Homo sapiens: one gene and its partner. The protein of the gene in region 1 purifies or fractionates together with the protein of each later gene. This does not show direct contact. Each region holds a gene or a part of one and is shown on either strand. Other genes may lie near its edges.

Evidence for each region.
Region 2: the proteins of NYAP2 (region 1) and ARHGAP26 purify together in Homo sapiens (affinity purification with western blotting, with the first as the bait; one study listed by BioGRID). This does not show direct contact.

Annotation. Positions count from the first base shown.
Region 1 is NC_000002.12:225,511,139-225,514,959, reverse strand, and holds part of NYAP2 (neuronal tyrosine-phosphorylated phosphoinositide-3-kinase adapter 2), read right to left. Parts: intron 1,590-3,821; coding exon 1,288-1,589; intron 1-1,287.
Region 2 is NC_000005.10:143,056,755-143,060,575, reverse strand, and holds part of ARHGAP26 (rho GTPase-activating protein 26), read right to left. Parts: intron 3,525-3,821; exon of another isoform or gene 2,935-3,524; coding exon 2,829-2,934; exon of another isoform or gene 2,827-2,828; intron 2,755-2,826; coding exon of another isoform or gene 2,535-2,754; exon of another isoform or gene 2,222-2,534; intron 1-2,221. UniProt on the Homo sapiens protein: GTPase-activating protein for RHOA and CDC42. Facilitates mitochondrial quality control by promoting Parkin-mediated recruitment of autophagosomes to damaged mitochondria.

The DNA of each region.
Region 1 (3,821 bases):
AGGCCAAGGGGCTTTCATGAGGGACTAGGGAGCCCATGTCACAATGAACACTGCCTAGTTGAAGAAAGGACCATGTGGCTCTCTGCGGCAAATATACTTGGTACCCTAGAGCTCAGAGAAGCTTGCTGTGGAGAAAGGAGAGTGGGGCAGAAGAGAAGCTATGGGACCTGGTGGAACGCCTCTCTCAAACTGGTCACTGGCAGCATTGGGAACCTTGAAGTGTTTTCCACATTTGCTATGTAAAGATCTCAATGTGCCTGTGCAATGAGCTGAATGTTTGTGCTCCCCAAATTAGAATGTTGAAAACTTAATCCCATAATGATTGTATGTGGAGGTAGAAAGGGAAGGAGAGCAGTGCTTTCAGGAATAGGATTAGCATCCTCCTACGAAGAGGCCAGGGAGGCCTTTCTGCCCTTTGAGGATACAAGGAGAAGTCGGCAGTCTGCAACCAGGAAGTGGGCCCCAACAGAGCTCTCAGGCTTCCAGCCTCCAGAACTGTGAGAAATAAATTGCTGTTGCTTATATGCCACCCAGGCTATGGTGTTTTGTTATAGCAGCCCCAAATGACCAAGATAGCTTGTGTCAAGGCACACTTAAGGCTACTTTCCCACCATGGAATTCTCAGGAGTAACTCAGGGAAGCTGAGACTCTACTAAATTCAGTAAGGCCTAAAGAGCTGGTGAGATCTAGTGTTAATATGACCTAATTTATATTCATAGACCAGCAAGGAGGCTGGGATATATTTGACTTGTATGTTTCATAGCTGAGAAAAAACACAGGCAGATAAAGGTAAAAATTGGAGATATTAAGGAGAGTTTAAGATTATAGTATGCACACACATACACACATAAATACATAAATTCATATTCATTGGAAGGAAATTCACCAAAACATTAAAAATGATTATAAGCTTTTTCTTGATATTTTCCTGAATTAAAATGTCCCCTTGATAATCAAATAATAATACCTTTAATTGTATAAATAGTATAAGAAAATATAACTTTTAGATATATTTCTGGGCAGAATAATTTTTGAATAATTTGAAGCTTTAAAGGATTAAAAAACTCATATATTGCCTACCCTTTCTGAACTATCAGAAATACATTCTTCTGGAAATTTGACAACACATCAATAAATAACCTTCCCCTCAATTCTTCTTTTCTGGGACTTCAGGGTGAGAGGCAGGATTATGTGGCCCAGTGAAGAAGGCACTTGCCCCTGGGCATGCTGACCTGAACATACTATCTGAAAGAGATTTCTAGGTGACATGGACATGGCGTGTTTTACCTTCAGTCCTCTCAGGGGTTTTCCCGCTCTTACTGGCTGCAGTGCTGCTGACTGTCTCTGATGAGGTGCTCAGCTTGGTGCTGGGGTCCCTCTTGGGTTTGGGTGGTGGTTGTCTCCGTGAGCCACAGCTGCTGTCATCGTCTGTGCCCCCAACCGAGTGCAGGGACTGTGATCTCACAGAAAAGCCACTGGAGCAAGGATGGGGAAGTCTGTCCTGAGGAGCAGGCATTGTCATGAATCCCATGCGGAAATGTTTGCCCACGTAACTTCCTTCGTGGCCTCGCCCTACTTCTCCACCTATGCTGTAAAAGAAAGCAGACCAAAAACCATGAAGACAAAAGGAGCCAGGATATACAAGATCATACATGTGAGAATATTACTAATAGGGAAAATTTCAAATCTTCATTTTAGTCCGGTGAAATGCTGCCTTTTAAAACAAACTCAAGTAGCATGAAAGCATTCTAACTTTTGTGTTAAATTTTGTTTTCCCCAAAGGAAAGAAAAAATACTGCATAGAACACTTATCTTCAATCACTTTATATTTACTTTAGGTAAATCTTATCAGTGGCTTAAAATGTAAACAAGAATTCCATGACTATGACTCAGATTCATTTTGACGTGCAATTCAGTCCTAGTGGTCAGCACTTGAGACTCTTGTCCACTTCATCAAAACCATTCCTGCTTTTATCTGCTTAATATATTGGAGAAAATGAAACAAAAAACAATAATAAATGTTCTGTTACGAAAGAAAGAAAGAAAAAGAAAGGAAAGGAAAGGAAGGAAGGAAGGAAGGAAGGAAGGAAGGAAGGAAGGAAGGAAGAAAGAAAGAAAGAAAGAGAGAGAGAGAGAGAGAAAGAAAGAAAAGAAAGAGAGGGAGGGAGGGAAAGAGGGAAAAAGAGAAAAAGAGAAAGAAAGAAGAAAGAAAAACGAAAAAAGGAAGGAAGAGAAAGAAAGAAAAGAAAAAAGAAAAAGCAAAGCAAGACAAGCAAAGCAAGACAAGCAAAGAAAGATGGGAGGAAGGGAGGGAGGAAGGAAGGAAGGAGAAAAAGTAAAAAGCAAAGGAGAGGAAGGGAAAGGAAAGGGGAAGGCAGGAAAGGAAAGGAAGGAGGGAAGAAGGAAGGAAGGAGGGAAGGAAAAAGAGAAGAGAAGAAGAAAGGAGGAAAGGCAGGGAGGGAAGGAGGAAGGAAGGAGGAAGAAAGGAGGGAGGGAGGAGAAAATATTTGCTTAAATTGGTGAAGGTATTGCCAACCACTCTCAATCCTCCAGAATCTTCAGTTACATTAGAAACAGTCCTACTAAGAAATCAGACACACAAAATAAAACAGCAACATTGAGTAAAGAAGTGCAGCTTAAATATCGTTTGATCCTGAGATGATTCTAATACTTCATAAATATTCAGTGTATGCAAAGTTTCCAAATTTAAGGTTCTTAAGTTTTACATAGGAAAGTTTGAACAAAAATATTAAAATATAAGAAATCCCCTCTAATTTTGGAACTCAAGCAATTATTTAGGAAATGACTCTTGGGCCTCTGTCTATGCTATTAAGTAATAGTGACTCCTTTATGAAAAGAAGGGACACAAATGTGAATGTAAACTTTTAAAAGGAAGATTTTTCTAGAGTTTCTTTTTATCTATGAAGTTCATTCACCAAGAGTAAACACAATTTTTTAAAAATACCATTACAAAATTTTTGACTAATTTTCTTAGATATGTTTGAATGGTAAGAAGTACCTCTGAGTATATGAAGTTTGGAAGCTTGCTGAGTCTACCTTCCCAGACATGTAAGTTTATTCAGATCTTCATTTAGTAAAACTAATTTTGGCTGGCTCTGCCTTCATAATATGATGGAATTTTATATCTTTCATATCGTTACAATGTTTGTTATGATTTTAACATTCCAGTAGGAACAATAATGAAAAATGAGATTTTCTTTTCCTCCTTCAACTGGGGACTTATGACAATTACATGTCCTTTGGGGATACAGACAAGAAGAATTTAACAAGAACATTAGATTCTTGATTCTGACCTTTAACACCAATGATAACTTGCCACTCAACCCAAAATATTTTATATGTATTTTTTTCTGAATATTTTCAACTGATACTCAGACACTAAGCACGGAGTACCATCTTTGCAATAAAGGTGGCTGGAATTTCAGTGCACTAAAAATCAACAGTATCCAGAAGCATGAATGGAGTCCAAGTGATGGCTAAGGGGCAGTGTTGACATCATAGCCGAAAGTATCCTAAGTCAGTGCAGTGTTTTTATGTGTTTTATCCTCTCTCTCTCTCTCTCTCTGTGTGTGTGTGTGTGTGTGTGTGTGTGTGTGTGTGTGTGTGTGTGTTTTAAAGAACGGCAATTAAGACATACATTAGAAGCTTATCCAAACAGAGTGGTTTGTGAAAAATGAAGAATATGAGAAAGGATGGGATAGTGGACGTGAGGGGCAGTCTTGGTATAGGAAGGTCTGTCTTCAGTTTGTGATGGTTGTGGTTTTGATCTTTCTCATAGATGATATACTTGATGTAATCTA
Region 2 (3,821 bases), on another chromosome or scaffold:
GGTTGCCTATAATTTTTATGTTCCCTCTGAGGTCTGAAACAAATCCAACATCTCTGTGATTTGGATGTACCCTGGTAATCATTTGCTTTAGAGGTTTGGAGTTTTTATCCTTCCCCCCACCCAATACTTTTTTTCCCCTCTGAATGAATTTTTAGCTGGGATTAAATATAAAATGCCTTAAATCTCCCTCTGTGGCTAAGGGAAATCAGTTTTGGAAAATGTTTCAAAAGAGTACTTTAAAAAATATACAATACAAAATGCTTGCCTTTGAACCAGAATTCTGAGATGCACAAGGCAAACAGTAAGTAATAAGAGAAGTAAACACCAGTTTTCCAGCAGAATCAGCCCTGAAACCAAAACTTAGGAAGGAAGCTGACCATTAAGTAAGTAGCCCAGAGGAACAATAGCTCAGGCATAGCCTAGGGTAAGTCTAAACCTGAGAAAACTGGAATCAGACAAACCTCTTGTCCCAAGTTAACTTTCCCTTACTGCTTGATTTTAAAATAAGGACAGTGCTGTAAATGAGAATATAAAGTTTAAGTGGAATCTTAGAACTCCTCTGGATGCCAAAGAATTTTTTCAGACCTAAATAAATACTCTTTACTGGATTCAACACTGCTCATTCATATCCTTCTCCACAGGGACATTTTAAATATAGAGGCTCGAGAGACAAGAACACAGCACGCTAAGAATTTGAGTCCGCTATAGTCTAATACTAGCTCTAACCAACTCACATTACAGCATGAGAGCTTGTCTACAGGTAGATTTCTTGATAATTAAATGATCAAAACATGCCATAAAACCACAGAAAATCATTCTCAAGTTTCACAGATAAGACAATGATCAAGAAATGCTATGAAGTAAACAACTCCAAAAATAAAATTGCCTTAAATTGGTTAGAAGGCCAAAAAAACAAAAATGTGTCAAGGTCACAACTGTGATTTGCAAATTCCAGTTTACAACTCTTAGGTTAGTAACAAGGATGGACTGAATGTAATGGGACTGGAGGGGGAAAGGGTGGGAAAAGGAGGAGAAAGTGAGTCATCCAACCAGGAGATGAACAAGTTCAACTGTTCAAGATCTACCTTAAGGGTTTGGTTTTGTTTTTTAAATCCTTTTTTCTTCTTCTTTAAAGAATCCTAACAATCCTAAAGGAAATTTAAAAGTAGGAAAAACGCAACACTGGCTCTGCTGGGTCACCCTTCACTTTTGGTCTCTCTCAGTTCAGTTAAGCTCTCCTTCCAACTGCACAGCTTGAAAAGGCCCATGGCTTTCAGATGGTTCCTAACCCTTCTCCAGCTGCTCTCTGCAGGCCTGAAGGCCTCTTTCAGACCCGATGGCCATGAAGCAGTCATGAGCATCCCCACACATGCTAGGCTGGAGGGTGCACCTGGAACCTTCTATGTCTTGGTGTTTGTCCTTCAAGTGTGCAAAGTTTTGCAACTAAGATCTAAACCAGCTTCTCTGCTTAACAAACGCCTGACTCTAGGTTGTGTGGAACTGGTACTCAACTGTCATCTCAGAGCATCTGGAGTTACTTTTTAAAGCCCAGTTCCCATTATTTTAAACATGCTTCATCGGGATTCTTTGACACCTTTAGGGCATTCTCCTGTAAACTTGCATGTTATCTGCTATTCTTCCTAAGTACTCCTGAACAAGCAGCTCTGATATGGAAAGCCAAGAAAAAAAGTTGGTCAATAATGGAGCAACTGTGGCTTTGCCGAATTCCTTCCCAATAACACACAAGACACTCTTGGCTTCTTGATGGAAATGAGGAAATGGTGGAAATCTTCATGATATATATCACTCTTTTTCCCAAAGGCAATATCAAGTGCTTGACAGAAAGATGAAAACTAACCATTACAATCTCCCTCAGAAGAATATCAACTTATCCCCAAGAAATACCCTAATGGCATAGCAAAGTATGGACTATAAGGGCCAAATTTATAACACATCAGTTCAATAGAATGTAGGGTTTAATAATTTAGGTTAACTGTTATGCTCTCATTCTTTTCTTGTGCTCCAGTCTGCAATCAAGAACATACCATCAAAGTCAACGGAAGGTTAGAACACACACACAAGTAGTGATGAATGCAGCACGGGAAGTCAGCAATGCCATTTGTGAAAGGGTCAAGGAACAGTAAATACACAAATATTCAAAACCATTCCAAGAAAATCAGGTCCCTACTGAATGCTTTGATTATCTCAGAGGACAAGTGAGTATTTGCCAAAAATAATTCCTTTATTCTTTATACTTCTTCAAAGGCTTTAATGCATGTAACTTCAAAAATCAATGATCCTTGTAGAAAAAGGGGAGTCTATTATCCATATTAGACAGATGGGGAAACTAAGGAATAGAAAGTTCAGCAGTTTGTTCAGGGCTGGTTAAGCAGCAGGTTAATAACAGAGTCAGCTCTAGAATCCAGTCCTCTTTACTAAAAACCCAAATTCTGTAAACCCACAACATATTTTTGTTTGTTCTTGATGAGCATAAGAACATATAATCCCACAAAATTCTGTGTGGTGACCTGGTATCATGGACAACACACTCCAATTTGCCCTTGATCACCATAGGTAAAATCCCCCTGAAAACTCTGCTTGGTGGCCTGGTTGCATGAGCACTTCCCCAGCATCCTCTGGGAAGGCCATCTGGCATTTGCTGCTGTTCTCCACTGCAATGAACATTTCACACATTTCTTTCCTAAGCCTCCAGCATACCTGATGCAATAGTGGGAGAGAGAAACAAAAGCAGAACTGAGACCAGCTTCACTGCTAAGATAAGAACTTTCAGGGGTAAGAAAAAGGCTAGTAATTGGTCTTAAACCTACTTTGCCAAGTGGTTCATGAGCAGCTGTAACATCTGCCGATTTTTCTCTGGGAGCCGATGAACAAGGCTGTGGATTTCAGAGACCCGAGACTCCTGGTTCTCCAGTTCTGCAAAGGAAGGAGGGAGGTAATATCTTATCAGTGTCACAGCTAAACAACTTTAAGGTTGAAAAATTAAGGGAAACCAAAGGATGAGCACTAACAGCCCAAGGATTTCTCAAAGATTTACAATCCTGTCTTGTGTGCATACTGCGTGGCCAGCATGACTAGATCTGGAAGTCCTTTTAATGGTGCTTTCTGGAACAGGGTTGCCAAAAAAATTGTCATCAAAAAATCAAAGCCAAGATGATGATGTGATGAAATGGAGCCAGTCAACTGCACACCCAGAGCTGCTCCTGAGAACAAACTCAGGAGTAGCTGGCTCCCTAGAGGGAAGACTTCATTTCAAGGAAGTAAGGAACTTTATGCACTTGTAAAGTGATAAACAAATCTTACATGAACAACATTGCAAGGGTTTCAAATATCAAAATAACACCTTGAGACAGCATCAAAGATATCAAAGGAAATGTCCAGTATCCTCAAGTCACATATGACAACCAGCCTGCTAGAAAGAAAGAAATGGCAGATAAAATATTCAAGTCTTTCTGCCAACTTGTAACCTAAATCATGGCTTGTCACATTCTCTTGGTTGAACCAAGGTAAGTGGCTTTGTTACTCTGGCAAATAGACTGATGGTACTCATCACACCTATTTATAGAACTGATGTGAGGTTTAAGTAGAGAATGGTTGCTATGGGTTTGTAATTTCTCTAGAAAGAAATGACATAAACACCATCTTCGCTCCTGGCTTTCTCCTTCCTGTTTTAAGGGGACAACTATGAGTAGATAAGGACACCAGAACATTAGGTACTACTAAATTAGGCCAGTAGTAGCTACCAGAGTAAATAAATTCTAAAGGCTGAAAGGAACCCGGGAGAGACACAAGTTATCGACATA